Regions from separate parts of the Homo sapiens genome. Here regions 2, 3 and 4 are each reported to be linked to region 1. Evidence: microRNA targets listed by miRTarBase, many of them from high-throughput screens and not tested one by one. Region 1 holds a microRNA gene; each other region holds the end of a gene's coding sequence.

What was found. Region 1 holds the annotated microRNA hsa-miR-190a-3p (CUAUAUAUCAAACAUAUUCCU, at 5,104-5,124, opposite strand). A microRNA usually pairs through its seed, bases 2 to 8, with sites in the 3' UTR of a target mRNA and lowers its output. Matches are read on the target gene's strand: a 7mer-m8 pairs with bases 2 to 8, a 7mer-A1 pairs with bases 2 to 7 and ends in A, and an 8mer does both.
Region 2: the mRNA of CADM1 is a reported target of hsa-miR-190a-3p. Seed matches in the 3' UTR shown: 7mer-A1 at 5,823-5,829, 7mer-m8 at 5,006-5,012, 7mer-m8 at 5,004-5,010, 7mer-m8 at 5,002-5,008, 8mer at 4,999-5,006 and 7mer-m8 at 4,992-4,998.
Region 3: the mRNA of MARCHF6 is a reported target of hsa-miR-190a-3p. Seed matches in the 3' UTR shown: 7mer-A1 at 4,299-4,305, 7mer-A1 at 4,291-4,297, 7mer-m8 at 4,282-4,288, 7mer-m8 at 4,280-4,286, 7mer-m8 at 4,278-4,284, 7mer-m8 at 4,276-4,282 and 24 more.
Region 4: miRTarBase lists NEXMIF as a target of hsa-miR-190a-3p. Seed matches in the 3' UTR shown: 7mer-m8 at 1,122-1,128, 7mer-m8 at 1,140-1,146, 7mer-m8 at 1,178-1,184, 7mer-m8 at 1,188-1,194, 7mer-m8 at 1,190-1,196, 7mer-m8 at 1,192-1,198 and 5 more.

What each region holds. Positions count from the first base shown.
Region 1 is chr15:62,821,640-62,829,131 of GRCh38, reverse strand. It overlaps MIR190A (microRNA 190a), which reads right to left and starts at 5,175; the gene lies at 5,091-5,175. All of the region lies in intron 54 of TLN2 (talin 2), which reads right to left.
Region 2 is chr11:115,169,749-115,177,165 of GRCh38, forward strand. CADM1 (cell adhesion molecule 1) reads right to left here. Exons shown (of 12, transcript NM_001301043.2): 12 at 1-6,844. The coding sequence ends at 6,726. Among named protein-coding and RNA genes, the nearest start is that of CADM1-AS1, 220 kb to the right of the region's middle.
Region 3 is chr5:10,432,437-10,439,928 of GRCh38, reverse strand. MARCHF6 (membrane associated ring-CH-type finger 6) reads right to left here. Exons shown (of 26, transcript NM_005885.4): 26 at 1-6,335. The coding sequence ends at 6,245. Among named protein-coding and RNA genes, the nearest start is that of ROPN1L-AS1, 5.7 kb to the left of the region's middle.
Region 4 is chrX:74,732,571-74,740,034 of GRCh38, reverse strand. NEXMIF (neurite extension and migration factor) reads left to right here. Exons shown (of 4, transcript NM_001008537.3): 4 at 537-7,179. The coding sequence ends at 630. Among named protein-coding and RNA genes, the nearest start is that of RLIM, 120 kb to the right of the region's middle.

The sequences.
Region 1 (7,492 bases):
AAAACCAAACAGAAAAAAATTTTAAAGAAAAATAAATAAATAAATAAATAAATGGATAGCCCTCACTGCAGAATCACCTGAGGATCTGGTTAAAGATGCAGATGCTGTTTTGGTAGGTCTGGGGTGGGAGTCAGGAATCTGTATTTCTTACAGAGGTGGTTACACACTACTCTGTAGGAAATGCTGGCCTGGACTCAGGAAAACAAACACCATTTAACTTAAACCTACCAGCCTGTGATCCCCTCCAGGGTGAGACTGTGTTTTATTCAACCTATGTTTCTCTAGCACAAAATCAGGCAGAGGAGCCCATGTGATGATCAACATTTGCTGAATGAATATATCCATTCAAAATGCATTTCCCAAGTTCCAGAGTTCAGCCAGAGCACAACGCACAAGGTAGGAGAAGGAGAAATACACAGAGTAAGCATCCACATCATTAGCATCCACTCCTGAGCCCTGGTGGACAGATGCATACACAGCTATGAGCAAGTTCCTGCCCTGTTTGAGGCCTTGAGTTGTTAATTGTACACTCTACTTGCAGCCTTCAACTGGAATTCACAGTTTGTGACATTTAGTCATGCATGGACATACAAATGTAAACACAGTGGCATTTTACCAAGAGGCACTCTTATGTAACAAGACAGCACTGGGAAAAAGAGTGAACAGATGTACAAACTAAGCTTCTACTCTGCCTAATGAAGGTGTTTGTTGCTGCCTCTGCATGCTGAATTAACTTCTCCTTTGATATACTGTTCTTTTCCCCCTTCCCCTTCATTTGAAAAGGCTATTTGGCCAGGTGCCCATCAGCTCTAAGCAATCGTCTTTCCTGGGCTGTCTGGCCAACTCTTGCTGAGGACAGATTTATCCCTACCTGGGCTTTTTGGTAGCTTCTAGAAAGGTCTGAGTACCCTGTAGTTGACCTCTTCCCTGCATGCTGACCTTCCTTGCTCACCCTTTAAAAAGTCAGTGGTCTGGTGAGATCCCTCTTGGGAAAGGCTATATATTGGGTTGGCTCCCTTCCCCTGTTTCCCAGTTGGGAGAGTATTTGGGACCCCTTTATGTTGCTCTGATGGGTTTAAAGTTTCAGTAGCTATATGTCCCCTGGAAGAGGAAATGGTGGTGGTAGGGGAAGTGGTGTGGAAAGTGGAGAAGGTAAAAGGGACAGCCTTTCCTCATGTTTCTTTTGACATTTGGCCTTTCATGGATTCTGAGAACATGGTCTTCACACTAATTCATTCATCTTCTAAGCCTACTTCCCCTCCTAACCTATCTGATGGAGTCATTACAAGCACGTGATTAGTATATGTAAAGCATGGCTGACTCATAGGAGATGCTCAAAAACTATTAGCAATTTCATTATCAAAAATTGTTTTTTTCAGGTTTGGGGCTAAATTAATCTGTTTCTCTGTCTAAACCCTGTTATGTATCCATAATTCCAATAAAAATTCTTCTTGCTATTTCTGATTACAGCCTAAATTCATTATAAGTAAAACCCACAAATCAGTAAGCGTCAGGTACCAAACAGCATAGATGGGCACCAGCTCCTCTCTCAGCACCCAACCAGGAGTGGGACAATCCGGGTGGTAGTCACTGTTCTGTACTTTGACTATGTGACTGTGGAGTCTTCGCTGCCCTTTCTCCAGGTATCAGTTACTCAGTTTTCTGTCACTGGAGGAGCAACTCAACCTTCCTGGTCCTTTTGCCTAGACATGGACAGTTCCAAATTAAACTTCTCTTAGAAGGCGGTGACTAAAATAAGCAGGAACTACCTTTTCTCTTCTGATTTCTCTTGACCTCCTCCTCAATATCCTTACCAACATCCCCCACTGCCCCCGCTCCTCCTCAACGTCCTTACCCACTTCCCCTGCTCACTGTCCTTGTCAGGTCCTGGGCAAGTGTTGGGCAGGGGAAGAGAATGTCCTCCCATGGTCTTTTTCTTGGCCTTTTCTTATGCCCTGCAACCCCACAGCTCCTTCCGCCAATGAACTTGAAGGTGAAGGAGCATAAGGCATGCATAGGAGATGGCCAAAGGGCTTGCCTCCCTCCCTGAAAACTTACTTTGAGGGAATGCTTTGTTGAGAGCTAAAAACACAATGGTCGCCCTTCTCACAACTGGCTCCACAAACTGAAGAACCACCCGTGTCATCTTTCCAGTGGGGTCTCAGGCTTTGCTCTGTGTTACTCAGAGTCTTGCAGAATGCCTGCTACTAAAAATAAGGTCATAGTGCATCAGAAACTTTAAAAAAACCCTCTTGGATATATATTTTTTAAAGTGTGAACATTTTGCATTTAATTTAAATGTCCTTGAGGGAAAAAAGGAGGCCAGTGTCTAGAACTCCCACAACAGGAGTGAGGCATTTTCCTGCCAGTTGGAAGCCGGAGTGGAGCAGGCAGCCACATTTCTCTTTTTTTTTTGTTGTTGCAAGTTTGGCTGCTACTAGTTTGCTTCTGGTATTGAACTGAGAGGTGCCTTGAGGGAGGCCTTAGCCTGTATGCAAAGCCCCAAACTGTGCAAAGGTTAGATCAGCTTCTCCTCTGGAGGACCCATGGATGGGGTGGCTTCAGGACTGCCACCTTTATTAGTTCAAACAAAAGGTACACCTCCCAGAACAACTGGAACTGCTAAGAGCCAGGCATGGACAGCTGGCCTTGTCTCAGGGAAAGCTCCAGAGAGACCTTAAACAGGCAAAATGGGTGGCAGAGAAACTGCCAAATGGCTGTGCCTGTGACTGGGGAGGGACCACACCCTCCGCATCCGAGGAATACGCGCGAGTTCATGCAGTGTCTGCTGGAAAAGGTCCGCACCTGCATGATTAGTATCTTGGGAGTAGTTTTCCCATAGTATCCATTGCTTTACTTTTGTGTTCAAAATGGAAAGCAACGCCACTGAAATAATCTTTTAATCACTATTTCTGTTTAAGGGGCCCTTGAATGTCGATATAGAAAGCACAGACAAAAGATAACAGGGTTCTTCCCAAGCTGTATCAGATAAACTCCCTACATCTTAAGCCCCCTTTCTGTGTCTGTGAAGGATCTGACAAGGACCTACTGGTCTACCCTGGAGGGGAGTCTCCCATACTTGCTTTTCTTATTTATTTATGTTTTTGAGACCGAGTCTCACTCTGTCACCCAGGCTGGAGTGCAGTGGCACGATCCCGGCTCACGGCAACCTCCGCCTCCCAAGTTCAATCGATTCTCAGCCTCCTGAGTAGCTGGGACTACAGGCGTGCACCACCATGCCTGACTTATTATATATATATATAAATATATATATATATAATATATTTATATATATTATATATTATAATATATATTATAATATAATATATAATATATATTATAATATATAATATATTATATAATATATAATTATAATTATATTTAATATATATAAAAATATATTTTTATATATATTTATATTTATATATATATTGTATTTTTAGTAGAGACTGGGTGAAACCCAGCTGTTGGTCAGGCTGGTCTCGAACTCCTGACCTCAAATGATCCGCCCACCTTGGCCTCCCAAACTGCTGGGATTACAGGTGTGAGCCACCATGCCCGGCCCCATACTTGCTTTTCACACCCTGTATGCTCCTGGTCTGGAACCAATGAGTGCCACTCAAAGCCCAAGTGCAGCCATACAGAAAATGCTGTATTTGTCCTCCTCCTTCCTGAACAGTTGGTTCCTTTTTCCCTTCACCATATTAATCACTACAGAGAACATGCTGGTCAGTGACAAAGTCACCCAAAGAAACAAGAAAATCACATCAATTCAAACAACTGGGCTTCGTCTGCAGGTCCTTTTGAAACCATGTTTTTCTTTGTTCGTAATAACTTGCTGTCTCTTTTCCATGGCCATTTGCCATTTCAGTCAAACAATGTAACTGGACTCAAAACCAAAGCCGGTGTTCTCTAGCTGTGTGAAGGAGGGACTGATTGGGGCAGCATCTTGAAACCCGCCTGACAGAGCACCTGCCAACACACACAGATCGCTTCTCAATGGAGAAGGATTCCAGAGACAGGATCCATTATGTAACTCCAGAAGCCAGGACTCCAACATTACAGGACCCTCTCCTGTGTCATCACCTCTCTGATGTTGCTGTTGGTGACCCTGTCACTATGCATTCACCTGTAAGCAATGTGGCAATGACTTCTAGACACAGTAAGGGGAAGCTTTCATGACTACCTGTTTAAACCATTTGCTTACACCTTTTCTCCTCCAAAACATTGAGAACAGTAGTTCTCTTTCCAGAAAGCAGTGCTCACAAAGTATTTTGTTTGTTGAGAGAACTCAGAATGAACTCACACATACTTCACAGGCTTTTCTATAAGGAAGAGGTCAAAACCAACCAAAGAAGGCTGTTATGTACCAGAAAAAATGTTTTCTATATCATAATCCCAAACTTCCTGCCACAGTCAATTAGGCTATGATATTACTTTCCGATTGTTGGCTTATTCTAAATATTACCAACCTCCACTGACAAGTTAACCTATAACAGGAAATTCAAGAGTTCAGTCAACATTATATTACCTTCATGAGATATATTTAGTCCTATATCCAAGGTTTGTACAAAGCTCACTGACTCAGTATCCATGCAGCTGGTATGGAGGATTTGCTTTATACATTCTGTTACTGTGAGTGGAAAGGGAAGTCATAGAAAACTGATCTGTGCTCCTTGAATTTTTGCTGAAACCCTGACATGAACTTCTAAATTGAAGATCAGGATAAAAATGAACCAAAATGAAACATGAATCTAGATGTGTTTGAGGCTATAATCCTGACCTTTATTCTGTGTCACAGACATGGGTTGGAACCGTTTTTTCCACCAAGCATATTGAATTCCTTAAGGATTCATCACTGCACAAAACTAAGCCACACAGAATACCCCAGGCTCTTATGAAACATCAACACTTATTGTTTCTATAATAAGCAAGTAATCCAGTAATACTGATACAGGTCTCAAATGCTATAAGAAGAAATGGAAGATAACATGAATTGTAATGAGTGCTCCATCTTCTAAATCTACTTGTGATTTTAACGTGTTCTTTCCTGTTGCCTTATAAACTTTATTAGGAACCCCCGGAGACAGGGCAAGACACTGTAGGAATATGTTTGATATATAGTTGGATTAAATAACAACCTAATATATCAAACATATCACACAGAGGCCTGCAGAAAAGGCATCCAGGTTTGACTGAGCTCGAGACTAGGCACAGTATTGAAGGTTACGGCTGCAGGGGGTGGTCACTTTTGCAGCAACTCCGATAACTGTCTTTGGAGCACAAGTCTGCCTGCAGATGTGGAAACGGCGCCATTAACAATACTGTCAGCACATGCACCAGCGCTCACTGACATTCTCATCTCCCCAGGTGAACAGCAGATTCAACGGTGCATGTCTGGGAGATCCCAGGCAAAAAGTGATGCTTAAGTTTTAAGAGCCTGAGGTGGAAATGTACCAGAATCATCATCAAAGACCATGAGCCATTCTCCTTTAAAAACAGGCAACCTGAGACGGTGGTGAGCAGAGCATTTTAGACAAAATTACTGTCTCTCCCCAAACTCTTCCTGAAAGCAGTGTGAATACTCCCCAGAAGGAACACACATCCATTTTATACTGAAGGCATGTGTGTGTACCAGGGTAGGGTTATAGGGATGTAATAAGCAATTGTTTACTGACAGTACCCTGAGGATTTTTTTAAGGTTTTGGGAGAGAATGGAGAGAAGTGATTCAACTCAAAAGACTGGCTGATTTTGGTGCAGATTGTTGTTATTGTTTTTTAATTGGGGAAATAAATTCCTTTATAAAGGCAAGGAAGATATTTCATGCAAAAGTTATTGCAATGTGCCCTATTAGGCACAAAAACTATGGTTTGGGTTGCAGGTTTTCCAAAACAGTTTCATAGATAATATCCACCTCTGGCCATCAGGCAGAGAAAGACTTCAGACCATTGTGAAGCATTCTAGAAGTACCCATCACCCTTCCTAATACGATGGGAGTGAGCTAAGGTAGGAACCCTCAAACAAAGGATTCACATCATCAGTTATGTTAACCTTGACCTTGGCCGAAGGACTCCTTGGCTTTCCTGTAAAAACCCTCAATGTAAACACAAAGGCTATATGATCCTAGAGTACTGTAGGGAGTCCTCACAGGCCTACTTCAGCAGTCATTAATTTTTAAGGTGCTGTTATTTTTTAAACCTTTGTTTTATAAAATGTTAAAACACAGACCCTTCCATCATCCCAATTCCATCATCATTCTTGTACATTCCCTACTTATTTTCTTCATCTGTGAGTTTTTAGAGTTGTAATCATAATAAGTACATAATTCTGCATCCTTTCTGTTATACCATGAGCATTTTCTTCGTGCTACACAGTCCTAGCAACCATTATTTTTCATAGCTGCATAATATTATAGCTGCATAATATTCCTTCGAGGAGTAGCTCTAAGGGCACACATAAACTACAAATGGCCTTTGTGGGACTAGACAAGCCTTCTCTGACAATGGGGTGGGAAACAGGGGCTGGTATGGACTGAAACTGCCACCCAGGGCCATACATAGCCCTCCCAGCTGAGTGACAGTGGTCGGACCCTGGCAAGGTAATTCGCCTCTTGGTGCTTCTGATTCTAATGGACTTTTTCCAAGGATCAGATGAGTGACTCCCATAAAGTACCCAGAAGACTGCCTGGCACAGGCTTGGCAGCTGAACAACGCGAGCTTCCTGGTTTTCTTTCTTCAGGGGCCAGTGGAATAATTTTTATTTCAGGCATTTCCTAGGGAGTAAGTCCCAGACACACATTTTCAGTGATGATGGTGATAATAATGGTGATATAGTTACTATCTACCAAGTCTCACTGTATGTCAGGCAGTGTTCTTATACTATCTTATTTAATTATTATAACAATAATCCTATGGGGTAGGAACTTTAATAATTTTGTTTTCCCATCTGGAGTCGTGAAGTGAACGACCAGACACGGGGAAACCAGGACTCAGACAAGAGCTCAGAAGGACCCTGCGGAAGGACAAAGGGAAAGACATTGAAACAGGAGCTCTTAGAATATGGTGAAGTGTTAATGTTAAATTAGCACCAGGCTAATTCTCCAGGAGAACGAATGTGTCAACTGACATGGCTTCGGCATTAGCGGACAGAGCCCTCCCCAAGAAAGGCCATCGTGATAAATCAGACAAGGAAATGGAAAAACATCATGCACCAAACCTCTAAATCTTAGTTAATGGTTGACTCTTAAGTTTAAAGTACACTTTTCATTCACGATTAACTTGACTGACAAAGCAGAAACAAAGGCGTAACCAGAAAATGGAGTTGTCCCAACACCCACACTTGGCTCTTACTCTGACAATATCAGGCAACCCAAGACTCCCAGGTAGAGTCCAGCAGAGAGAGCCCTGGTAAACCCCACAATCAGAAGCCCAAATCCTTAAGTTACATCTTGATGAGAAAACGTTTAAGTGCCTTTACCAAGTCCAGAGCGAC
Region 2 (7,417 bases), not on the chromosome of region 1:
TGTCTGGGCAAACAGCTTTTGTGGATTAGCTAGACTTGCACTTGCCAGCATCCATTGCAGGTTTAAACGATGAAATACACAACTACAGAGAAAACAAACCAAAAAGAGTAATAAAGTCACACATTTCAATATTCAGCAACCATTAAGGGATTTAAATATTTGCTTGCTATTAAAGGCCTGCATTAGGCTCTTCCAACACCAGCTCTGGAAGACTGAAATATCAATTACGGATCAATTTTCCCCCTAAGTAAACACTAATGCAGGATAAACAGTATTAGAAGATGCAATCGTAACATTGCTGACTTCAGGATGGACTTCCTGCTGGTAACAGCAAGTTTAAGCCTGGTGATTAATTAACCTGAGAAGATAGCACTTAAGGAAGATTTGAGGCGGTCACGTCTGAAATATGACTGTGAGCCTGTGCACGTCTGGAGGGCAGCTGAAGTCCCGGGCCCAGAGAACCGGTTGATTTGCCCCTCAGTAGTGGTTCTCACCTTCCCCAGATCAACACTTCGAAGGATTAGGAGGGAGTAAAATGGGAGGCGCAGGTAGGTGTGCATGTGTGTGAGAGAAAAAGCAGTAGACAATGTCAGGTTCCTTGTTGGAATACATTCTGCATTTCAATAGGCAAGGCTCGAGTTGTATTTCCCAGCACTGACCACCAGGGGCAGTAGACATTTTATGTTTTTTGGGAATGAAAAAAATAAATAAAAACATAAAAATGAAACAAAGTTTCCTGTGTACTGAAGAGGCTGGAAGCTGAGGTTTGGAACACCTGAAAACAGAGAAGATTCTTGCTTTCAGGTCTCAGTTCAGGGATGCTCATGTGTAATGATGTGAGTGTTGGGTGGGGGGTGGTGGGGGGGGACTGAATCCTGCAGTTCCTATTAGAGGCACATTTCAACATTTTGAGATAAACACAGATAAGGCAAGGACTATAGTTTGCATTTTTAAAAGAGGCCATATTGCATTCTGAAGGCCCCTCACAATATATGATAGCAATACTAAGGCTTTGCTTGGCCATTACCCAAAATGATATTCCCTGATACTATTCCAGTGGGTCCTTGAGAATGATAGGGCCAATCGCTCTAAACTCAGGACTGGCTGGCTTGTCCCTTCACGGCCAACCTGAAAGCCACCTGTAGTAAGGATGGACATGCAAACATCAAGGTTTGAAATACAGCATCGGTGGCCCATTCAGATTAAGTGTAACGTAAGGCTCAGTCAGCCAGGTGCTCGACTCTTCTCCCTTTAATCAGCTGATACTTGCTGGGTGACTACTGCGTGCCTGACAGGAACTTTAATATGGTATTGACCTACAAGGTCATGGATGAGCCAAGAGTCCCTTCTTTCTTCTCCTGTACGGGGGGCCAGCGCTTCAAAAACTATACATGTATGGCTGTGAATACAAATTTCACCCTGAAGGAATGTGGCTGCCAGTTCTTCATGACAAAGGGCTGCGTATTTGGGATCCTGGCAAAAAGGTGTATTAATCTTGGGCATGATTTTATAATAAAACAAAAATACCTTCACTTAAGCAGGGTCTTTCTACCTGTAACACAGTGGCCACATGGTTTCTTTGAGGTTCTTGATGACAGAATCAAAGGAGCATTTCTCCATGGAGCAAGTCCACAGCGGTAAAAGAATTACATTTCAGGTAGACAGAGGACAGTGAAAGATTGCACCAATTAACACCCGCATATCACCTCAGGGTTCCAGTTGATGTATTTGGAGAATGCCAGGCCAAAACATTTGTGAAAACTCTCTGGGGGAAACGAGGGCCATTTTCACTCTCGTACGCACTCTTCTCAAATGAAGGAGTGGGCAACTTATCAAGATCCTTTGAGCGGGGACGGCTTCTAGCACCTTCTCATTTGCATACCCTGTGGAGCTCAAAAGGCAAATGTACAGCAGTCACCACCTCCTGTCTGCCTCAGCTCAAGGAACTTCTGGGACTTTTTTCTGTAGGGTACAGCTAAAGCTGGAGCCTCATGCTGCAGACAAGAGGGAGAGGGGTGGGGAGACTAAACATACTGCATGCCACGTGGCTTGGAATAAGTCTGCTAATGAATGGTGAAGAGAAAAGGGTCATTAAACCTTCTAAGTCGTGGTTTGCAAGGGCATGATGTGTCTATATGCAGAGGAGCCCTCAGAGCTCCCTCTGAGTAGTGACCGCTTCTTCGTAGCCCTGGGTAACCTTCTATCGTTTTAGTCACCATTTGCCTCTATCCTGTGACTGACATGTAATGAACAAGTAGTGTGTGTCTGGCACCTTTTTGGCTGAGCGCTGACTGCATATCTCACTGATCTTTCCTAACAACCTTCGAGGCTATGGTGATGTCCACCTTGCAGAGCAAGAGACTGAAGCCAGGTAGGCTGGGCTACTCACCCGAGGTTTCACTGCTACATGGTGGGACAGGGATCTGAATGCAGGCAGCCTCTCTCTAGTGTGTGCTTTTGATCCTTATTCTATCTCTCTGGGTCTTTTTATAGAGATGCAATGAATGAGTACTCCCTACTGCTCCTTGCCCTCTGGCAGAGGCTGGGAGAGGTCACTGAAGTATCGAGTCCTCTGCCCGGACTTTTCAGTACAGCCACAAGACCCATCCCACCCTGCACACGGAATTGCTTTCTTCTCCCCATACAAATCAGCAGGCTGGCTGGGCTTGTTGCCCTCTGTACTTTTGACTCACATTCCTTCTCCACGAAACCATCCTTTAAGATCCAGCTGGGGTCCCAGCTCTTTGTGAAGCTGTCTAGGGACTCACCAGCCTTCACTGATTACCCTTCTCCAGAAAATTCTCATAGCACTCTCTGGGCTTCTCTGTGTTCAGTGGGGCACCCATGGCTCAGGGTCACTTCAAGTTTTCAGGTGATGTAACTGATGCTCTACTTGGCCTCCAGAGACCGCCTTATACTTCTCTGCATCCCTCACCATGCTGGACATACAGCAGGTGCTCAATAACTGCATATCTGATTTTTTTTTTTTTTTTTTTTTTTTTTTTTTTTTAACAGAGACAGGTAAGAGACCAGGCCAGGATGGAAGTGGCTCAAGGGGAGATGCACAGCCTTCAGTCTTTCTGGAGCTTACCTTTGCTTTTCCTATGGAACTTTCCCCATGACGTGGCCAAGGGAGAAAAGGGGAACTCATCAACCACAGCTGAGGGGATGGTGGGAAAAGGGCACTTTGGGCCTGGCCAGACGTTATCTGCACATTTATAAGATCGGCCACCATGAAGTGTAGTCATTGCTCACTTCAGCCTGCAAGGCAAGGACGATGACAACAGAGCAAATCCTGCTGTCTACCCAGGCCTGGAAGTCTCAGCAACCTAAACAGCAAGTGAGAACAATCTTCTGCAGGCAGCCAAGCCAGTCCTCCACAGCTCACGTCTTCTTTTTATGAAAGGAGAGAGAACTTTCAAGGAAGAAGGCAGAATGAATTGTTAAGACACAAACTCCCAAAGTAAGAGACAGGTGGAGCAGCCAACACAGGGAAGTTGGTGAGGGTGGGGGGGCGGTGAGAGAGGGGATGAGTGCGGAAGACACATCTACGGGAGCGGCCTGTTCCGGCGGGCCCGCCACGACAGCTCGCACACCTGCACAAATCGCTGAGTCCACGTGGGAGCCCAGACTCAGCCACGGCACAGCACTTGGCTCACCTGTCCACTGAGAGTGGGGAAGAGAACAAGGACAGGAAGGATGAGCGGAGAAGGAGAGAGAGCGCGGCCCCCAGCAACCCAGCCGGCAGCATGTCCTAGCATCTACTGCCAGCGTTCCTGGCCCCGTACATGGTCCTAAGGAGGAAGCTGGGACCAGAGGCCCATCTCTTCTCTCACTCGGAGGCGTCCATAAGAAGTCCATAAAGAGATTAAAGGATCACTTTGTAACATTAATTTTTTTTTATTAAGAAGACAGATATTTTATAGTACTTCTTTTTTTTCTTTTTTTTTTTGTAAAAATGGTATACATGAACCAATACAAAATGCGAATGGGAACATATGGATATGGAGTTTCTTACACTGTAACATTGTCCATGTACACCTTAAAAACAGAACTGGCCTAAAGGGAAAAATAAGACGTCGGTGTGACTAAAGAACAAGCTTATTTGGCATCAATTATACATCCTTCATTATTTTATATTCCTTTAAAAAACACAAAAAACAAGTTTGTTCTTTCTTCACTCTAAAAAAAGTGATCAACCTGTACAAAGTAATACTCAACAATACATTTCAAACAGTGCACTGTATACTTAAGAAAAAATACATAAACCAATATACAACTAAAATCCATAATTTCCTGTTTTTGCTTTGTTTTATTATTATTTTTTCCAATGTGTGGGGCCTACACTTTGCAATCTACCTGAGACGGAAAACACCAATCGCAACACATGAACCTGAGACATGTCAACATTGTAAGCCATAAAGTTACATCAGGAACACTGCACTACTGTACACTTTTCAAAACAGAAAGATGGGAGGTCCCAAAAATGAGATGCCAATTCTGTGAGCAATGGTGTGATTTTTTTTTTTTGTTTTTGTTTTTGTTTTTCTTTTTTTCTAAAAAGAACAACTGAAAAAAAACCTTTCAACAACATGCTAAATGATTCTCACCCTTTGATATGATTATACTATGGTCGGAATGGGTGCTAAGGGCTCGGAATAGAGCTGCAGATTATAAAATTCATTGAAAAAGGGATGTTCATTGTGGCTTTTTGTCTTGGTTAAGTGCCTAGGGATAGGGGAGGGGTAAATAAAATGCTGCTCGATAATGGATTTTCTTTTACATACCAGTCCGTTCCCAAAAGGCCCCCATATTGCAATGGTTCTATCAAAGGTTAAAATAAAGACAAGAAAAATAAACATGTTTTCAAATAACAAAGAGTTGACACTTTTTCCCCCTTAAATAAATCAGCATAAGTTTTCCACATAATGTAACAATAGTAAAAATGCACCTTGCAAAATCCAAAATTACTCACTGAAAATGTAATAGAATATATATTTATATATATATATAGATCTATCTTTTTTGATGCCATCTTTCCATAGGGACTGTTAGCTGGAGTCTGGAGTCTTACCAAACATATGGTAAGAGTTTAGTTTCTGTCCTTCAGGACTACTTCTAGATTTCCTAGACGTTTCAGTGAAAATCCCCACACTTCTTTCTTTAAAACATGTAAATGGTAACGTGACTCCTCTACCTTTTCCCGAGGCTCCCCATCTAAGATATGTTCAAGGTCACTGATTTTAGTAGCTATGCACTATGGCTGCCATCATGCGAGGATCAGTAATTTTTGGCAGATGGTTCTTAAGGCTGAGGAAAGAGGCCAAGGCTAGTGTATGAAAGGTAAAAAGATAAAAACACTCACATTTGAGTTTTGATTAAGTAACTGAAAATCCGTACATGCTGTTTTTCCACCTCTGCTCTGACCTATCGAGAACTGAGAGCGACAGCAGACCAGTGTGAGAACAATACCAGCCCTTCTTTTGTACCTCCTGCCTTTGTCAAGCCAAATCTGAAGGAATGAAAGTTTCACACAGATTCGAGTTGGAAATCCCAGCATGACAAATATCTGTAATATACAGTACATGCAGGCCACATCCTACTGCCTTCCTAACTAAGCACAAAGGAAAAAAAAAAAAAAATCAACTCTGTCCCATTCAGTCATTCGCACAACAGACGAACTTGCTTTTTCCTACAAATTAGTGAGAAGTAAGGCCGATTGGGAAAGGTGGATGGAATCATTTGGAACAGAAACAACCAGAGCAGAACTGTATTTCCCCCCTCCCTACTTCCCCTCCTGTGGCAACTCAAAATTTGTCCACTTATATAAAAGGAACAGACCTCACCTGTCAGGTCTGTTTAGGGCATGGAAAAAGGAGGAGTCCTTTCTGCCCCAAACCTTTCTGGACAGCGTAGGGTATCTATACTGAGCCGTCTACAGATACAGAATTAAAGACAGTGAAATTCAATCTCATTGTGACACACCTCACTTGCAGATAACCCTGTACAGTAATGTAGTTCCACAGCAAACAGAACATTTTCTGAATCACAGTCTAATTTTCTAGTCTTCACTGCTCTAAGTATTTGAAACATGGGCAGCAGCAAAGAGTTTTCATTGTTTGTTCACCCAAATCTTTACGACAACAGAGAAGAATGCATTATGGATACACTAAATTCTGAACTATGAAATCTAAGCTGTGCTGGTTCTCCTTTTATGAAACTGAATTTGGAACAGAAAGCAGTTACCATAAAAATAAACAAAAGTAAAAAACTAGAACAGAAAAGGGAAGGAAAAGAGTCTAAGGAATCCCAGCAGGCAAATTCCAAAATGGGAGATTTTGGAAAAAATCCGAAATTGGGGTAGAGGGAGGAAATAAATGTGCACAAAGGGGGAAAAGAAAGGAACGCAACAAACAAACAAAAAACAAGGCACAGAATTTTCTGCAATCTACTGAAACTAAATCCAAGTATCCAAGTTTGACTTGGTAGGAAGAAATAAAAATTAAACAAACAAACAAACGAAAAAAGAGGTGTCAAACAGCAGAGTGTACTTTCCAAAGAACATTTTTTTTTTTTTTACACAGCAAATCCCAAGCCTTCCCAGTCTCACACCTTTCCACCCATTCATAAAAAAACACACGAATTTCTCGCAAGTTCCAATATCACTGTCTCTTTATCATCTAAATAGGGCCAGTTGGACACCTCATTGAAACAAAAAGGCTGATCTAGATGAAGTACTCTTTCTTTTCTTCGGAGTTGTTCTGTCCTCCTTCTGCATTGATTATAGCTGTGTCTGCGTCTGCTGCGTCATCGGCTCCTTTGGCTTCATGAGTGAAGTATGTACCTGAAAGATGAAGGGGTAAAGCACCGTGACTGTCTGATGGCCTCTGTGTAAAGTGGTACAGAGATGGCAACTTGCTTTATGGCCATCATCAGCCGAAGTGGTGTGCAGGCAGCAGAGGGGAAAAAACAATTGGAAGAAGAGAGCGGGGTGGGTGAGACAAAGGGGGATCCGGGGGTTCCAAAGGCACCACTCCAACTGAACCGCTGCGATATAATTCAGCAAATGAGACATTAGAGCAGTGATTATGACCAGAGGATGTCAGCAGAAGAAGACGTGAGTGGGAGCTAAAAATGCAGAAAGCTGGAGAGGGGCTGACTAACGTATAAACAGTAAACACCAATGACCAATGACCAGATATGTGCACGTACATTGTTAAAGACCAAAGCAAGGAAGAGCAATTAGCCAATAAATGAATTAGGGCCCTGATGATGCTTCTGTTGTCACCTCAGCTCATTTATTTGAACCACCGTCCCGTGTCTATATGAATCATTGTTGCCTACCCATAGGTGAGAAGGTGCTTGAACTTGCACAAGTATGTTTGATTTTCCTGTCTTCCACTTCAGAGTGAGGTTC
Region 3 (7,492 bases), not on the chromosome of region 1:
AGAACATTTGGGTATTGCAAATAGTAAGTGCAAAGGCACGAAGGCCTGACCTGTTTTGGAGGCAGGGAGGACGGCAGGAGCAGGGTGAACACAGAGGTGATGGGGTCAGAGAAGGGAGAAAAGGGGTGCTTCATGTTTTGCCCAGCATTGAAGGCTATTGTGGACTTTTGAGTGCCATGGTCGTCTATTGGAGAGTTCTGAGGGTTGGTGTGATCTGACTTGGATCTCAAGAAGAACATTCTGGATTCAATGTTGAAAACAAATGGAAAAGGAGAGAGAGCAGGGGCAGAGGCAGCAAGCTCAGGAGAAACAGCGATTAAGTAAACAATGGGTTTACTTGTTCAGTTTTGAGACTTCTTTATGTAATCTAGATGCAACTCATTTATCAGAAATGTTTTGCAAATATTTTTCTGCCACTCTACAGCTTGTCTTTTTGTTCTCCTTATGGTACCTTTCAAAGAGAAGTTCTCAATTTTGATAAAGTACAATTTATCGATTTTTCCTTCATGGATTGTGCTTTTGGTGTTGGATTTAAGAAATCTTTTCCTAACCCAAGGCTGAACACGTTTTCCTTGTTGTCTTCTAGAAATTATACAGTTTTGGGGAACTATAATCCATTTGGACTTTAATCTTTGCCAGTGTTAAGATATGGATCAATTTGTTTTTAATTTTGCATCTGATGCCCAATTATTCCAGCATCATTTTTTCAAGACCTTTGCACCTCTGTCAAAAACCAGTTGTCCACATACATGTTGGGTTATTTCTGGACTCTATTCTGTTCCATTAGACCAATGCACAGCCAGCAGAAGGGACTGATCCCAAAAACATATGAGTGAATGAAGAGGAGTACTGGGTATGAAGCTTCTCATCTTTAGGTGTATCCTAAAGAAGAGTTACTGAACAAACACAGAGAAGCAGAAAAACTCCGGCACTGTTACATATGTGAAGAAAAGTTTCAAAATGATAACTAAACAATGTAAAATGAGGCAAAAAGGGGCCTCTACGTAGTGTTTACGTATGAGTGGTCTTAGAGAAGTGTGTGACTAAGTAGAACTAGATTGCAGAAGGCTGAAAGAGTAATGGCAGGGGGACCTACATATACCAAACAGTCACTAAGGAAGTGGCTAGGCCATCTCTCCCGGGTGAACCTTTCTCTGTGTTCCCCATGGCATTTTATTCATACCTCTGTAATACAATCTTTTGCTCATGCTTCTGTTCCATTCTGAGTTCCTTGAAGGGAGACATCATACCTCATTCAACTACAGTACTAAATACAGTGCTAGAAACAAAACAGACACCAAAATAAAAACATGGAGGAGGAGGGGAACGTTACCCTCTCAGCCCCTTGATACGTTAGTTCTCCTTATCACTACATGTTTGCAACAAGAGTAGCTATGAACTGTGGAGCGGAAGGGGGAAATTAATGGCCAGTTTCTGAACTTGACCATGCAATTTCCTTTGCTGAAAAATTTCAGCTTCACAGATTAAAGATGTCTATGGTTCGAATAGCATTTCCTCTATCACCCCTGCATTTAAAGTAATTAAAAATGCACTTGTTTGGGGGAAAACAATCATGGAAAAAATTCTGAACCTATAAACAAAGAAAAATTAGAAATAGTCTGAAGCAAAAGGATCTCCTCAGGGCACTCAGAAGGAAAAAAACATCACGCAAGTCTTTCCTTTTTATCTGGGACATATGGTCAGGTATGTACAATGGATTTGATTGGTTTTACTCTAAGTATTCAGCTAAAAGACAACCTTAGTGAAACTGACTTTCTGATCTCGTAGCAGACATGCAGAAGTGGGCAGTAGCTTGCTATTGCACAAAATGTGGGGCCTTACTCTTCCCAGTGAGGACGGTCTACAGTTCAAGTTAGGGAGACAGAAGGGGAGGGATGTGTCCTCTGCAACTATGCATTTAAATGTATACATAAAAGGGAGTCGCCACAGTCACATTTAACTGGAGTTGTTTTTCCTTCCTATTATAACATCTGGATTATCTATGCTGGCTAATAATGCATATTTCTGCAATCTTAAAGCAATCTTGCAATAACACAAAAACAAACAAAAAAACTAGACTACAATTAACATTCACTTTATTCAGTTTTGTCCTCTCAACTTAGAAGGCAACAAATGACCACATTAAAAAGGGAGCATTTCAGAATATATATACATAAAATTGGTCTGGGTACCCTAAGGTGTTTGCGTTGATAGAAAATTGACACCCCAAACTAAGTGTTCTACTTAGCTTCTACAATAGTTATTCCTAGACCTTAGATTAGTCATTACATTTTTATTTAAGGTACTATGTTACTTTCATGACTACAAAATGAGGCACTCGTACAAAACAGGAATGAAAACATACATATACTGTCTTGTCTTTATGTCGTATTAATGCCAAAGATATTGTCAGGGATTATTTTAAAGAAGCCCTTACTCATGATGGCTATTTTTAAAAATGGCACAGGACAGTAACAGGCTGAAAAGAAAACACCTGGTTGAGGGGACAAATTAAGTAAATACAAGACAGCTTAACCAAGGAAGTCAGCGAATCTCCACAAATGAGGCTTTTAATAATACTTTACTGGTAAGACATTTTAGTTGGGTTTTTTTTTGATGGCTGAATAACATCCTAAAGAAGTATTTTAAATATAATCTTTTAATTTTACAATGTAGAAAACTTCTCACAGTAAGTAGAGAGCTTAGAGTACTCAACCCTGAAAATGAAAATAAGTAGCTAGCTTGGAAAGTTTTAAAAAGCGCCAGTGTTCTTATGGCACTACATTCTCCTGCACGTGTGCGTGTGTTCACGCACATTCGCAAACGCAATACAATGTAGAACTGTCCAGTGTTTGTTTTGTTTTAAAAAGTCATCAATTCAACCTAAATTCAAGAATTACACTTTAATAGTGGCATTTTGCCAATACAGAAATGACGTATCTTGGATCAAATCATTTTAAGGAAAGTTATTCTATATTACTTGAATAAGGGAAAGAAAATACACAAGACAAGAATCCACAATAATAGCAGTTACATTAAATGTTGAAATAAAAATTACTTTTTGTTTACATCTGGAATTGAGATGGCCCATCTTCATTGTTTCTCCAGAGTACTAAGAGGGGGAAAAAAGTCACCTAAAAACATGGGAAGTTTTTTAAGGCTAGCTATACACAAACGTCACATTGGCATTTTTCTTCAGTTTTCATCTCAACTATTAGTACTAAATAGTTTAAAAATCAAACATAATTTACTAATAATGAACAACTGCACACTTCATACTATGACCGTTTGATAACTGGTCATGTAAAACTATCACCAAATGCTGATTTGTCTTCTATATATAAATAGTAAAAATAAAACAAAAAGGTCTTCTTTCCTAGTTAACCTTCTTGAAGGTTGTTTTAACCCAATATAAAATTAAGCAAAATAATAGTATAATTTAAAAAAAAATTTATGTGAAGAAGGGCAGCAATACTAACATTTTCTGAACTATGGGTTTTCAATATTTAAAAGGCTCTTGGTTAAATACTAAAACCCGGATGCTACCCAAGCAAATATTATGCTGGAAAATGCTTTCCCTATGAAAATACTTATCTCATTGAAAACAACACGATAAAGTACAATTGAAAAACTAGGGGAGAATTCTTAAGTAAGACAATATAAATTACCTGCCAGTAAAATGGAGGGCAATTTTTTGGCCATTCATATTGTTTGTTTACAAAACATTGATAAGATTCATTTAAAATTCTGTAGGATTAAGAATTTTTAACCTTTTGAAGTATCTGCCTAGGATCTCTTGCTGTTAAAACAGATATGTTCCAATGACTTTATACCAAGATCCACAAATTCTTTGAAAAATTAAAAAACAAAACAAAACAAAACAAAAAACCCAAAATTAATATAATCAAGTTGGCCAGGCGTGGGGGCTCACACCTATAATCCCAGCACTTTGGGAGCCCAAGGAGGACGGATCACCTGCAGTCAGGAGTTCCGAGACCAGCCTGGCCAACATGGTGAAACCCTATCTCTACTAAAATAACTAAAATAAGCCAGGTGTGGTGGCACGCACCTGTAGTACCAGCTACTTGGGAGGCTGAGGCAGGAGAATCGCTTGAACCTGGGAGGCAGAGGGTGCAGTGAACCAGGATCGTGCCACTGCACTCCAGCCTGGGCAACAGAGTAAGACTCTGTCTCGGGGGCAAAAAAAAAAAAAAAAAAAAAAAAAAAAAAATATATATATATATATATATATATATATATATATATATATATATATATATATATATATAGTTATATAGTTATATAGTTATATGCTCAATTCAATAATAATGTTTTTCTCCCAAAGAGAGCAATTTAGAAATACACTATGACAGGCAGCATTATATTTTAAAATCCTAATTTTTTATAGTAGGACTAAATTTCTGAGTAAAGGTAGGGCTAACAAAGACCTTATTTCAAATGAGAGAAAAGGCTGCTCTAAAGTGCCAAAGAGTATAACACTGAATCCTATGTCAAGCATTATTTCTGATACTGATTTTTTTTTTTTTTTCCAATTTTGCCTAGGTTGGCCTCGAACGCATAGCCTCGCCTCCTTGTGTGCCAGGACAACCGGCCGGAGCCACCGCAGCTCCCGATACCGATGTTTTTAAAAATATGTTTTAAAGTAATTGCTTACCACTTAGGGAAAAAATTGTTGAAGTATAAAACAGCCAGAACACATTGCTCTTTATTTTGGTAGCTTATGTTTGGCTGACTTGCATATGTTAAAAAATTCTCAGATTTTAGTCTATGGATTTTAATACTATATGAAAATTCTTTTATAGTTTCTGAAGACCTATGTTATACGCTTTCTATGAGAACTTCTAAATTATCGTTCAAAAACAAACACTACCCTTACGATATACCTTTAGCATTAAACATTTAGATCATGTACCCAACCATTCTATTTTTCTAAACTTCTAACCTGAAGCTTTGGTTATGAGGGAAAACAAAGTTTGTAAGGGTTCAGTTCTCTGAGATTTTTCAGAATGTTTCCAACGAAATACATTCCTATGTTAAAAGGCCAGCTCAGCCAAGCTTCCTTCTGGACAAATAATGAATTGGTTTTATTTGAAGTTTTATTCTGTAAACAAAAAGCTTTGGAAACTTTGGGATTTCCTGATGAAAAGCTAGGAGAAATGCACACCTAGTCCTCAGCCAACGAGGCACTAACCAGCGAGACCAGATGTTCTAACCAGTCTTCTCTAATGCTGTCAATCTAAGACCACAACCACATCTATACTTCACAAGCATCTCAGAAGTCCTAAATCCAGTAAGATGCAGTACAGTTGGTGATGTCACTCTGAAAGATTTATGACCTTGCAGGACTTTCGGCCACTGCTACAAAAAATAAACAGATAGTTGTGTGTGGAAAAGAGAGGATGTGGGTGTGGGGTGGGGGCGGGCGGGGGGGCTGACTCATGAAAATCTTCATTTGGACTTTTTTTCTCTAAGTATAGACATGCCCCACTGAAACCCAACTCCCAATGCTGATCACACTAGGAATATTAAATTATCAAAATTAAAAATAATTTCCTCACCTAGCACAAGATACTATACAATATTACAAACACAGACACATGAAAAAAATCAGGCAGTAGGAAATGTACAACAGCTTTGGTGTTATACAAAATAACTTCCACAAACAACTAACAGTGAAGCATAAAGTTCATGTTTTCTTACCACAGACACTCCACTGCTGATTTCTACTTGTTTCCTTTAACGTTCTTGGTAAGGTCTGAATAGCCAAGAAAGAAAGAATGTACAGTTCCCTTAGTGAGAGCTGCTAGGACATCATGAACTGCGTTCCACAAGGCGTCACTGAAAAGTCTTGCCTGCGCACTACTGCTCTGTGGCACGTTTCCTGTCGAGATCACAGCAGGTCCAAAATAAAGTGACAACTAGATTTAATAAATTAATATACATTTTGTTTAAAGATGTACAATGCACATTCTGTTTAATCCAAGGTTTTAGGGTATCAAGGAACTTGTATTTACACATATACAAATCTCAGACAGCAGTAATGTCAGAAGATCCAGGGAGAACAGCAGAATCTTACACCGCTGCTCTCTGAATGCTGAGAACACAAGTCAAATACATTTAACTTAAAAACAACGCTGAGAGATCACTGGGAAAAATCTCCAAAGAGAGAAGTCCACAAAAAAGGACATGTAAAGGGGAAGGTCAAGTTGTTGAGACAACTACTTTATTCTTGGGATGACTGTGGAGGTGGTGGAGATGAGCCTTGTTTGCCAGATTTCCGTTCGTAGTTCACGAGTCGTTGACCCACAAGGTACCTAGGTTGCAAAAACAAGGTGGTTACTCTCTTCTATGAATGTACAGAGTAAAACATTCATATGTCTTTTTAAATCTAACTCCTACTTAAAACTCGTCAATGGTTGGGCAAGTCAAAGGGAGTCCCGAGTGAACACCTGTAAAGGCTGACACATCTACCTAGGTATGGGTTTGTAGGAAGCTGCAGAAGCAGCACAGGCTGGAAGGCCTCCAATGCTGTGCAATGGAGGACATGCTTCAGTCAGTGGTTTAGGGGGTCTCAGAAACTCAGACCTGTGGAGGCCAGGAGGGATACAGTAAACTTATGCAGTGGATTTATCTGTTAAGGTTCAGATTTTATAAAACAACTTAGTGGGCAGATCTAAGGAGACAGACTAAAAACATGACCATCAGAAAGCTAGGAAGGGGCTGGGCGTGGTGGCTCACGCCTGTAATCCCAGCACGTAGGGAGGCCGAGGCGAGTGGATCACCTGAGGTCAGGAGTTTCAGACCAGCCTGGCCAACATGGTGAAACCCCATCTCTACTAAAAATACAAAATTAGCTGGGTGTGTGTGGTCCCAGCTACTAGAGAGGCTGAGGCAGAAGAACTGCTGAAACCTGGGAGGTAGAGGTTGCAGTGAACTGAAATTGTGCCACTGCACTCCAGTCTGGGTGACAGAGTGTGACTCCGTCTCAAAAAAAAAAAAAAAAAAAAAGTAGGAAGGGATGAAAGTAAAACTGGAAGTTCTAGTTACAGAGAAGAAAGGAGAAATCAAAGGAGAAATTTCAGTGAAGTCAAAGGGAAGACAGCATTGCAGTGAGTGAGTATGAGTGACAGGAGGTGGGAGAATATGGTTCAACAACAGAATGGCAAGTGTTCCTAACTTATGTATGTGATGAAAGGAGAAGGCAATGGCAAAGGCCACAGGGCTGCAGAAACAAGGCAGATGTTACTGTAGTTGGAGTGACAGGGCAGGAGATCCTACTCAAGGAGACAGACATCTCCAATGCCAGGGAAGGGCGACAGCTGCATCGAAGGCTCACTGAAGGCCTGCCTTACTTAATGTGAGCAGATGGCTTGCAGGCTGATCCCAAGAGGACAGCAGGGACAAAGCTGGAAAGCAACAAGCTGTAGGTGGCTGGGCACAAGTGTGAAGGGCACCCATTTGGAGGCAGAGA
Region 4 (7,464 bases), not on the chromosome of region 1:
AGTCCCTCATTTTTTCCCTCTTGAAAGCAAAAATTTGCATGAAAGAAACTGTCCCATTCCCTTCTTTTTCAAAGTAAAAAGAAAATTTTAAAGTGCATGAAAATCCCTATACCTTTAAGCCACCCAAAAGATTGGGCAATTTTGTTGTGGCTTGGCTAGGGATAAGCTCTAACAAAGCTATTTCTTCTTCTGCTATTCATCACTAGTTACTACATATTAAGAAAATAGAATTAAAATATGCTCTTGAATGATTTTTGGAAGTGAAAGGCTTTGCAGTAAGACAGATTTTGAAAAATAGAATTTAAAAGTCATGTAGACAAAAAGCCAAGATCATTTAAACAAAAGAGCATTAGCTGGAAAACAAAATCTGAACATGTGGCAAATAGGAGGGCTTTCTAGTGCCCCATGCTATTTGTATCTTTTTCTACATCATACGGCATCTAGTATGATGTTAACAAATTTAGCTTGTATGATCCCTTTGTGGGACATACACTAAAACTAACTCAGATGGCATAAATTGTTTGATTTTTCTGCAGGGATTCCGACTACAATCTCCTAAAAGCAGAAACAACCTTTTGGGTTTTACCTGTGTTTGAAGAAGAGACTCGCATTTTCCAGAAAGACATTTGATGTTTGTGTTTTATTTCTTTCAAAATATGCCTTGTGGTATGTATGTTGACATGTAAGTGCTTAAAGAAAAGAATTTTAAATTGTGGGAATACGTCTTTGGAGCAAACTTTAATCTCATGTTCTATGTAAAAGACTTAAAAAGTCATACAGTTGCACAAGTAGTTTATGCACTATTTACCCACAAGGAAAAAATTGAAAACATTGTGCCAAACTACAAACAAGTGACTGTACTGTATATATTTTTACTTCTATATCAACATTTGGTTGTATTTGGGGAAGTTGTCCCTGTTAATTTACTAGAAACATTCCAGTGATTCTTGCTATTAACCACCCCCACTTATGTGGATAGCACCTGTAGATCATGGTGGAAAAATATGTTGTGTTACACAATTTACCAAAATTAAAGGATACTGTTTGAAATGTGCCAAATTTTCTTACCTCATCTCACAGATTCACCCACAGTTTAAAGCTCATTAATTATTTTTAAATGGATATATACACACCCAAACATATATATGTATATGTTTGTGTGTGTGTGTGTGTGTGTATATATATGTATATATATATATACACACACACACGTTCTTTTAAAGTTTTAGACTCTACTGTCCTGTGTGGAAACATGAACAGCTAAACAAGGCAAAATAAAGATTTTCTTGTTCCATTGTGTAAGGGTTAAAATTTTGGAAAAGTCTGAAGGCCACAACAGCTAAGTCCATCAGGGACCCAAGTATATGCATTTACAGAACGTTTTACAAGGAAACAAAACAGCTGCTTTCAAAGTTTGTTTTCTAAAAGCAAAATCTGTAGCTGAAAATTATTTAAAGTGCAAAGTTATATTGCTGATACTTTATATCTCAGTTTTATATATTTTATAATAGTCTGGGATAAATTATAAAAATAGCTATAAAATCAACACTAATGATAAATGAAGTATATAGAATGCTTTTATTTAAATAGTTTCCTAAATGTTTTATTCCAGTTTTGTCAAAAGTGCACTCATATCATGGCTTTAGTGTTCTTTCAGTGTTTAATCTTGCAATGCCAATGTCATTTAAAGAAAATGTTAAGGCATCCCAGTTCAACCAAATTTTTCTTCTTATGAGTAAAGTACATTTACTATCAGATAAGATGAACAATTTGTGGCAACAACTGATTTGGGCCATATACCCTTAGTCTGAGGATAACCAATATTTGATGCCACACACTAAACTTAAATCTCAATTTTAAGTACAAATTTTTAAATCACATTTTTTATTCAGTACTCCCCCTACTTTTTAAAAAAAATTTCACAGCCCCAACATTCCTCACTACTACTTTTTCTTCCCTTTTATTCACCACTTGACTTCTAACATTTGATCTCTTTTCTTTGCACAATTGAAGGCCTGTGCATCTGATGACTGATGCATTATGGCACAGATGAGATAATGGATGTGAGAGCGCTTTGTAGATCATAAAGTGCTATACAGATATAGGGGATTAATATTATTAATATTGTTAGTTGTTGTCGTTGTTACTATTCTTATTAATATTGTTACTAACCTATTAACTTGTGAATATATAGGCTGGGGTGGGAGGGTGGAGAATAAGTGGGAAGGGAAAAAGGGGATTTAACAAAAAAAGGGAAGATGTTTCAAAAGGAAAATTTTAAGCAAAATATGAACCTACCTAGTCAATGCCACCTAAATGTATTCACAAACAGAGAAGCAACATTTGAAAGTAGTCAGAGAGAAATGGAAGGAAGCCTGTCATGTATATAAGTATATACACTTCCCGGTCCATGATTCCTTTCACCAGCCTGCTCTATTCCTTACAGCTGGGTCGTAAAATGAACAAGCCTGTGTTCTTGATCATGTGTGTTCCCAGCGTCAGTCTCTTGTGTCTGTGGGGATGAGTGGGTGAGGAGCATTCTGTGAGGCTGGTACAGGCCCATTCCTAGGCTTTAATGCTCTGTTTGCAGTGAGCCCTGGAAAATTACTTAGTGGAAAGGCACCAGATGAAACATGTCTCCTGCCCCATAGCTACCATTCAAAAGGGAAAATAACCAAACTGGAAAACCTTCTTCTATTTCTCTATTCTGATAGCTAGCTGTACTAAATGCTATGGCCAGTCCCTAGAAACTGGTCTTTGTTTTGTTTTTGTTTTTGTTTTTGATTTTTCTGTTTTGCAGCTGAATTTTGGCTTGGAATCACCAACTCTGCCTGTATTGTGATCCCCAAGACTCCAGACCTCAGAGTCACCTGCTGGCTTAGAGGAGTGGAGTGCTTTCTATGTAATGAAAAGGTGGCAATTAATGAAAAAATAAAGAAAATGTTCCATTAATACAATGTGTTTTTATAAAAGTAAATATGGGAGCAGTTGTCCCAGTTTTTTTTCGGTATCAGTTCAGCTTTGGAGAATGGGGTGTGAGTGGGGTAGGACAGCCTGAAACTGTTGGAAACAATTTCCTTGTGAGAACTTGCTATCATAAGTCCTTTGGAATGGATATTCTTTCAGTTGCTCCTATGGAGCCCATTAAGGGCCAATTCTAGGGCATAGTTCATCCCTTTCTCCAAAGAGAATTGTTATTTTAAAGTACCTTTTTAATTGGCCTGCAGTGTATTATATGTTTTTAATATATAAATTAGTGACGCATAACCAGTCACTTTGTACTGAAACATAAAAAGAAACAGAGTTTGAGAAATGAGCAATAGGCCGAGGCAGAAGATGTTTATTCTCTTAATTGCATTTAATATTCCTCTCAGTACATTGTGTTCTGAGATGTTCATCATTTAGCATTTTGTTGGTCCTGTCTCTGCTCTCACAGTTCTTTTTCTTCCTGTCATAACCAGCTGCCTTAGTAGAGTATAAAAATAGTGTTTTGCCCTATCACTGGTATCTCAAGTCAGAAATATATATTATCCTTGGTCTGAAATTCCTGATTACCGCTCCCTTCTAACCTTCCCCCTCTGAGAAGCTGTTTCCTATTAATGCCTCCCTAACAGAGTCCCATTTAATCTTTACTTTCCTGGAAATGGTAACCTCCCTTATTCTTCTTACTTAATCTCAGACCTTGGTCTTAGAATTTTTCTTTTATGGTCTCATATCCCACCTGCCCAAATTGTCAGGGCTCAACAATCTTAGGCTGCTTTCTTCTGGAAGTTCAGAAGGAAACCTTCCCATTCTTAATTGCCTTTAATTGCTTTGGCTATTTTCAAATCTAATTTTTTAATTAAATTTTTTTTAATTTTTATAGAGTAGGGGTACAAGGACAGTTGTGTTACATGGATATATTGCTTAGTGTTGAAATCTGGGCTTTTAGTGTACCCATCACCGAAATAGTGTACATTGTACCCAATAGGTGGTATTTCATCCCTCAAATATAATTTTAAACACACACTCGTGCCCACATGGACAAATTATATCACATGACTGAGGAAACTTAGAAATTCCTTTTCCCTGAAGATCTGTTAAGAATAGGTCTCATCTCCTGCCCTGGTTAGGTGCTATATTATATGGAGAAGGGTATTGAGACTTTGGGGGTCATGTTTGGGCTGTGATAACTGGCTTGAACCAGTGACCATCCTTTCTGCCTCGCCAAGGTCTCTTATACCAGCTTCTTCACATATGCTGCTTCCTCCCAGCTTTCCCTTCTGACTTCTTGTTACTCTGCAACTATGTGTCAAGGCCTTACCTTTTCCTGATGTTTTCAAACCTCCTGCATTACTTTGATCATCACTTCTTCAGCCATCTCACTGAAGTCCTTGGTGCTAGCTGGGCTTTTGTGACAACTTTCACCTTCTCTGAACTTTTTCCTTGCTGGGAAGCATCTGCGTGTGTGAGGGGGCTACGGAGGGAAGTGTGTGTGTGTGTAAGAGAGAGGCAAAAGGATGCTTCAAAAGCTATAAACAACTCTAGCAAGCATCCTAAGTCCTATGTGAGGTTTTGCAGTTCTAGTGAATTTCTGTTTTAGTAGGTTTCAATTAGCATTTACTGCCTAAAGGAGAAAAACCATATCCAAGGACCTTTTAGCCATGCTTGCTATTACCAAGCTGGACCAGTGTGATGTAGATCCAACATGTCTTCAGCTTACAGATGCTCTCAGAACAGTTCCAAGAATTGAAGAGAGCTAAGTTTTTATGCTGAAGAGGAGAATGGAGCACTAGCTAGTCCTAACTATTGCTAGAAATAGAAATGTTTATTTTCTCCTTTATTATTGAGAAATTATCTAATTTAAGGAGTAACCATTTTCATTTAGGGATTTTTTTAATGACTGCCCATCACTACAGAAATATGTTCTTTTTATAAAATAAAACTAATGTGAGGTTGGTTTGTTTTCTAATCATAAAATTCACTAAGCCTATAGTTACATTTAGAAGATTTAGTACCAAAATCAAACTTTTAGTAACAAACAGGAATCTTGTCAACACAATGTAGGCCAGGGATTTTGTAAAGGTTTCTCAAAGACCCAAATAAGGGAGAAAAAAATTTTAGTTGGGCTGTTTAACTTGGGAAACACTGTCATCAGCTTGAGGGTCCTCAGCCAGCATGTGATTATTTTGATGACAGGACTCAGGCTACCCTTTAAGGCACATTTTTTACTCAGCATTAAACACTAGCTACAGTCGTGAAGCAGAGCTCCCATTGCAGCTACATACTTGAGATGTACTCTTGGTTTCAGAATCGTAACTAAGAGGTAAGGCATTGGAGAAGGACAATGTAAAAGACAGAGGTTTAGAACAAAGTTTATGGTGTGAATGAGGCTTTCAAAATCAGTATCTGGGTAAATTGATACTAAAGACACTGAAGAAACACTCATCCACATAAGATGGAAAGGATGTCTGTCCATCTAACAAGCTCAGGGGTTTCTGAGTCTCAGAATGACATCCCATTTCAAAAAGAAGAAAAGAGATATTGAAATCATTCTGCCTGTTTGAGAGATGACTGGTTATTTACAGCACAAAAAAAGGCTTAGAATGAAAACTAGAAGAGGCCTTTTGTTTTTCACTCCCAGTGAGGAGAGTAGAAATCTTAAGATGCTCTACTGGGCTACCTGTAGCACTGACTGGAGTTTGCTGCCTACAGAGTTTTGAATGTACTAGTCCTTAGTTTCCATAGAACTGAATGCACCTCTTTAGTAAGTTGCTGATTTATGGTGCTAAAGAAAATGATTATTCCCATTTTTTTCTTCTTCCCCAAGCCCCTTAAGCATTTAAGAAAATTTAAAATAAAAGCGTTAGAGGCCCTTTTTATGAATGTAACCTAAGTTTCTGTTTGACATATGACACTGCAACTTAAAAATGTTAGGAAATTATTTGCCTTTTTTTTTCTTTTAGAGTTAAGCTTTATAAATAATCTGTAGAATCAATTGAAGTTTAAAGCTTAAGGATCACTCTTAAGACGTCTACAAAATCTTGTATATTTTTAAGTGTGCCAATTTGTAACATATTTTGTAAGTGTATATTTTTCTTAGAAAAGTGCTGTGAAGTGTCTGTATGTGAGAGTTTTCCTTTTTCTGCACCACTAGGTGCTAATAAAAGGATATTTACTTCAAAGTTTCTGGTTTTAGAAACCACAATACAAAGAAAAAAAATACACTTTTGTTGGAAATTTTGTAACACAAAACATGTTGTGAAAGAGTGTAGTGATCTTGTGCAAAAAAAATGAACATTTGTGAGCTTCTTGCTGTTTTATAGATTTTCTTGTAAATTATTCTTGTAACACTTCTGGTTTTGTTGTTCTTGTTGCGAAGGTTTCAAATATTTGTGACTGAATGTACGGTGAAACTGTCATAATGTTACCTAGCTGAGTTTTGTTATTGTTTATGAAATAAATAAAAAGAAAAGTTTAAAATACTGCTTTAGAATCATATGTATTAGAAATCAAACCATTTCTAATTAAATCTATGTCCCAAATAAAACGTTCTTTATCATCTAGAGCAGTGTTTCTCAAACTATCTGTGGTGAGGGACCAATAGTTTTTGCAATCCATCACAGACCAATACTATTATAAAACACAACAAAAATGAATTTCTAAGAAAGTTAAATGGAAAAAAGATATGCAAAATAAAAGCCCAAATGTATTAGATTTAACATGTAAAATTACATTTCGAGATAAACATAACATAAGGGGAAAGAAACGAATTGCAAAAAGTTGGTACCCTGTTTGAGACAAGTCCACTCATCAATGTCAAATTGCCATAGAAGGTTCTAATCATACTTTGAATAATACTTTGACTAGACCAGCAGCATTGCCATCATCTGGGAACTTGTTAGGAATGCGAAATTCCAAGCCCTACACCAATTCTGCTGAATGAGAATCTGAATTTTAACAAGATCCCTAGGTGTTTTGTGTGCATGTTAAAGTTTGAGAAGCACTGGGCTAGAGTTTTGTGTAGGGGATTCTTTTGCCCCTCAAATTGAGGAATCATCTTCTAGTGTGTCCAGTCTTCAAAGACCTTAAAACAAATTGTGTCTTTGTTTTGTGATCCAGATGGAATCTGCAGAGATGCAGTCCTCTCAAAGTGTTAAAGCTGTTTATTGAAAGTAATAAATGCTGATTTGCCTGGTACCCAAAAGATGTCAGATTTTCCATAATTCCCTACAGTTCCTACATCATGTTACTTACCACTCACTCATGAACCTTGTTTCCTTTATTCAGGACTTTCCCGAACTCAGTCCCTACAGTACCCAGTATTTCAAAGTATTTGCTATGTCTAGAAAAATTGAACTTTGTTTTCAATTGCCCAAACTGTTTGAGTCACCCATCAGCCTGGAGTGTTGGCTAACCATAGCAAGATCATTGAGGCACACGTGAGCCAACAGTCACTTCTTTGGTTTTGAACACCACCGCTCA